Linked DNA regions of Homo sapiens: region 1 is linked to region 2. The links come from fine-mapping of genetic effects on gene expression. Tissue or cell type: whole blood. Region 2 holds a variant in brackets; the other region holds the start of a gene. All regions are shown on one strand. Distances are between the middles of the regions.

The links. PIP is the estimated chance that this variant, and not a neighbour inherited with it, causes the effect.
Region 1: it holds the start of SHISA4, and the variant in region 2 is fine-mapped to the expression of SHISA4 in whole blood (TOPMed, PIP above 0.99).

Annotation. Positions count from the first base shown.
Region 1 is chr1:201,887,680-201,890,360 of GRCh38, reverse strand. It overlaps SHISA4 (shisa family member 4), which reads right to left and starts at 1,463. Exons shown (of 5, transcript NM_198149.3): 1 at 1,294-1,463; 2 at 745-916. The coding sequence starts at 1,366. RefSeq lists enhancers at 1,326-1,620, 1,461-1,970.
Region 2 is chr1:201,940,363-201,943,043 of GRCh38, reverse strand. The region is part of intron 1 of LMOD1 (leiomodin 1); the gene reads left to right. Among named protein-coding and RNA genes, the nearest start is that of LMOD1, 4.8 kb to the left of the region's middle. RefSeq lists an enhancer at 644-1,593. The variant G/A (reference allele first, on the strand shown) is at 1,563.

The sequences.
Region 1 (2,681 bases), 53 kb after region 2:
TGGCATGCTGAGATTTGGGGTTCCTTGTGGGGCTCTGCCCAGTCCCTGTGAAGGAGATCTTAGAGGACCTCCACTTCCCAGAAGGCTATGCTGCCTGGCTGGCTAGTGTGAAGCATACGGGGATTTGCAGTGCGCCCCCAACCATTGCTTTTATATCTACAACTTAAATGATTAGACATACAGCATAACACTGAAAGGAGCCTTAGAAATAATCTAGAGCCATTTTTTCCAAACCCCGCTTCAATCAGAAGTCTCTATATCTATTTTATATATGATATATTAAAAAAAAGTTTGACAACCACTAATTTGGCAAGCAATGACCCATAGAAGGCAAGTGTCTTCTCCAAGATCACACAGCTAGTAAGAAGTGGACCTGGGAATCAAACCCAAGTCTCCTGCCTTTGTGCCAGAGCTTCTTCCACAAAGCTACACTGTCGTCCGGGTGTTAACCTTGAACCCTCCCTCCCCATGACCTGGCAGGACCAAAGGGAGGGCTCCAGAAAGAACCTGGAAACCCCGGGCCCAGTCAAAGCCTATGAAGGTAACTAACATGCCTTTTCTGGAACTCCCAGGCACCAGCACCTAAGCACCTAGCTCTGCCGCCAGGCTTGAGTCCTGGTGACTCTATTCAGCTAAGAATGTGGAGGTCGACAACGGAGGAGGCAGGAGTCCGGGAGGGAGGAAGAGGAGGCCTCTGGAGAAAAGGATAGAGGAGGTGGTGAGGGTGAGGAGGCAGGAACCCACCTGAAGGCCAGGCAGTGCTTCTGCTGCCTCTCGGTGATAAGCAAGGTCAGGTCCCTGCAGCAGTACCGATGGTAGCAGGTCCCGCAGCAGAAGGTGAAGAACTCGCAGTTAAACCCCGGATGCCAGGAGCCATTCCGGTCCAGGTACCACAGGCAGTCCTCGCCGGCCAGCACTGCGGGCAGGGATTGGGGGTGCCCAGTGGCCACCAGGCCAGTTCATCCCCAGCCGCGCTCGGCCCCACTCCCCCGGCGGTCCCCAGCCTGACGGCTCCCGAACACTGAGGGTTGCCCCTTGTCTCCACCCTGAGGGTCTCAGCCCCAGAGCCCCCGAGGCCTCTGCCTGAAGCTGACCCTGCACCCCGGGATCAGCCTCCCATGGCCCAGCATCCTGGAGCTCCCTCTTCCCGCTTCTTGAGGACCCAGCAACACCCAAGGCTCCCGTGGCAGCCGGAGGGTCTCGGAGAAGCCCCGAGCCCAAGCCCCTCGGATCGGTCCCTCCCCTTCCTCCGCCCCCATCCCACTCCTGCCGCATCTCTCCCCATCCCCTTACCCAGGGGAGCCCCCAGCACCAACAGAGCGATTGCGGTGAGCGGCGCGGCCCGGCGGAGCCCCGCGGGTGGCATGGTGGGGGCTGGGCGCGGCCGGGGTCGGGCCTCCCAGAGAAGGGACCGCAGGACCAAGCCGGCCAGCTGGAGCTGCGGCGGGGCCCAGCCCGCGGCCAGGCTCGGGCTCCTCTTCCGCCTCCTCTGGGGGTGGGACTAAGCGCCCCGCCCGCGCTAACCCAGCCGGCGCGGCTCCGCGCAGCGCCCAGGAGTCCACCCACCAGCGACGCCCACCTAGCCTCTGGAGCTGGGTGCCCCTCACCCAGCAGAGCACTGCCCTGCTCCCCCTGTCCCCGGCTCCGCGGTGGTTCCTCCCATCCGAGCCACCATGGGCACTGCGGGCAGTTGGGCACTGCGGCCAGGGAAGCCTGGCTGTGTCCTGGACCCGCCCCCGGCCTGGGCCCAATCACTATGCTGGACTCCAGAAGCCCTGATCCTGGTGCCACCTCCGAATGCCCAGACACATGGGCCAACCCTGGAGGAGCAGGGCTGGACCTTCACTTGTGGGGGACCTCCTCTGCCGCGTCCAGCCTGGGACATCCTGTCGGGGGCGGAGAGGGAAAGAGGCTGGATGTCACCCCGCCCCCATTCCCAGAACACAAGCACTCATTGAGAGGCATTCAGAGTGGCTTTGTCCCCAGCGGTGCCCACAGGCCTGAACCCTGCCAGCTGCACTGGCTCCCTACGATGGACCCTTCCCCCTTCAAGTGGACAGAGCTGGCATGCACCAGCCCATGGCCTCACTAGCAGGGAAGGCAGGCTGCTGGGGCCACCTGGGGCCCATCCAGTTAAACACTCTTCACAGTGAAAGCCCTTCACAGAGCAAGCCTGTACTGCAATAGCCACCGGAGCATAGGGAGGGCAACAGTTAATTTCAGGTGGGCAACAGTTAATTCCAGGTGGAGACAGTGTTTTAGGATGGGAGAGGTCAGTCTTCACAGGTTTATACTGAGTGCCAGTGACTATGCCCCATGCTACATGAGGTACCCTCCGAGGAACTGCAAATTAAGCCAGGGAGATCATCAAAAGCCTACCTTAATCCCCTGCCATGTACACCCTTTCACACACTTCTGGGCTTCCACATCTACCTCACTGGAATCTTTCCACAACTCCATGAACTAAGCAAGGTTCATCAGTGTTATCAATCGCATTTCACAGACTGAGAAACTAGGACTCATGGAGGTTAAAGAACTTGTTCAAGGTAATACAGCCAGTAAATGGTAGAGGCATCAGGAAGACCCAAATCTAAATCAGGGTTGATCCCCAGCCGCAACAGCAGACAGTGTAGACAGTGAGTATTTCTTGTGTTCTGGGGTGAGAGAATCAGGACAGGTCC
Region 2 (2,681 bases):
ATGAGTAGGAACATAACTAGAAAAACTAAGTGTGGATTAGGGAAAGTAAATCCTGACTAGATAGTGGATGCTGTTAAGGAATTTCTATTAATTTCTTTTAGGTGTGATAATGGCATTGCAGATATACTTTTTAAAGGATTCTTTTCTTTTAGACATAAATACATAAATATTTATGGGAAAAATTTATTGGCTTTGGGAATTAGCCTTAAAATAATCTGGGTGGGGGTATATATAGATGAAACAAGATTGGCCACCAGTTGACAATTGTTGAAGCTGGGTGATGGGTCTACATGGGTGTTCATTATATTATTTTTTCTACTTTTGTATGTATGTTCGAAAATTTTCATAATAAAATTTAAAAAAAAAAAAGAAAGAAAGAAACCAACATTGGGAGGTTGGCCTTAAGACAGTCTTAAGGTCTGTCTTTTCCCCAGAAGGACAGCCCCAAGATGCATACTCTGGCTATTGTGCAAAGTGAGTCTAGGCTGCCAGAGGGCCCTTGGCCTGCTTCTCCCTCCAGGGTCTCCCTCCAAGGGATGGGATATTCCAGAGATCCTCCTGATTGTTTACCATCTTTTTCATGAATATTCCACCCTTGCCTCTTCCAGGTCAACTCCTATTTGTTCTGCCTGTCTCAGGTACCACTTCCTCCAGGTAGTCTTCCAGGACTCCCTCAAGGTCAGGCACCTTGTCTGAGCGCTCCAATACCAGTCTGTACCAAAGCCCTTGGGACATGACTTTTGTATAATCATCTGTTTTCTTGGGCTGTCTCACTCACCAGCTTGTGGGACTTGGAGGGCAAAATGCAAATGCAGGGCCCAGCACACAGCAGGCCTTCAGCCTCTGTTTGTTGAGTGAATGTTAGCAGGGGATTGGGGAGGGTAGAGGTGGGACTTGGAAGAATTGACCCCAGCTTCTCTCCCTCCCTTTAAAGGGCCAGACCTGTCAGCCAGTGTAGCTCCGCCCTAATCATCCGGGAACTCTCCTTCAGCCCAGGTAGAAGACAAAGCCCCTGGGCAAGCTGTAGCCAACGGTTCAGTGAAACTCTTGTCCTTGTCTCAGGTTTCAGGAACCGGATCCCAACCGGTCAACTTGTGTGTCCTCTTTCCTTCCCAAGTGGGAAAGAAAATCTCCAGCCTGCCTCCCCCTCCCTTCTCCCTGGTGTTAGCAGGGGCTGGGGATTAGCGCCTGTACCCAGCCAGGGTCAGGGCAGCTGAGCTGGTGGGGGTGGAGGAAAGCTCTCCCTAGAGGTAAACTCGAGAAGCAAACCCGAAGCAACCTACTAATAGCGGCTGCTGGGCCTGAGCCCTCCTGACCTTCCACTCCCACTGCCTGCACAGCCTCAGCAGCCCCCTCCCCCATCGGTTCTAGTTCACAGCTCAGTGTCCATGGTATCTCTACGGGGCCGGGAAGGCCCGAGGCCGGCGGCCTAACCCTCAGAATGCCCTTTGCAGAGGGTTGGGACCTATCAGGAGTGCACTGAGCAGCACGGCTCAATGCTTAAGGAGATTAACCCCAACTGGTACACACCCAAAATAGCCCTGGAGGCTAGGGTGAAGAGG[G/A]CAGAAGAGGTGACGGGGGCCTGTTGACCCAGGGAGGCAAAAGCAGGCACCGGAGAGGGTTAGACTGTTAAAATCTCGCCCTGAAATTTGAAACTGCCTCCATCCAGAGTTTGAAAAAGCAACTGCTTGTTTCTTAAACTAGGTGGTACAATCCACAGGTGTTTGTTTTAAATATTGTTATTATACGTTTTCTTCTGTATGTATATAATATTTAAAGAATTTTGAGGGCAGGTGTGATGGCTAATACCTGTAATCTCAGCACTTTGGGAGGCTGAGACAGGAGGATCACTTGAGTTCAGGAGCTCGAGACTAGCCTGGGCAACATAGCAAGACCCCATCTCTAAAAAATTAAAAATTAAATTAAAAAAAAAGAATTTTACCAGCCTGGCCAACATGGGGAAACCCCATCTCTACTAATAATACAAAAAAAAAAATGGCCAGGCACGGTGGCTCACACCTGTAATCCCAGCACTTTGGGAGGCCAAGGCGGGTGGATCACCTGAGGCTGGGAGTTCAAGACCAGCCTGACCAACATGGAGAAACCCCTTCTCTATTAAAATACAAAATTAGCCAGGCATAGCGGCACATGTCTGTAATCCCAGCTACTAGGGAGGCTGAGGCAGGAGGATTGCTTGAACCCGGGAGGCGGAGGTTACGGTGCGCCGAGATCGTGCCATTGCACTCCAGCCTGGGCAACAAGAGCAGAATTCCGTCTCAAAAAAAAAAAAAAAAATGCTGGGCGTGGTGGTGCATGCCTGTAGTCCAGCTACTTGGGAGGCTGAGGCAGGAGAATCACTTGACCCGGGAGGCGGAGGTTGCAGTGAGCTGAGATCGAGCCACTGCTCTCCAGCCTGGCTGACAGAGCAAGACTCCATCTCAAAAAAAAAAAAAAAAGACTTTGAGCAAGTGAGGCATTAGTGCCTGCTCCCACCCTCAGTGCTGCCCTCTGGGTGCCTGCCTTCTCCTTACTGGGACAGTAGGTATAAGAGCTTGGTTAGGCCGGGTGCCGTGGTTCATGCCTGTAATCCCAGTGCTTGGGGAGGCCGAGGCGGGTGGATCACGAGATCAAGAGATCGAGACCAGCCTGGCCAACATGGTAAAACCCCATCTCTACTAAAA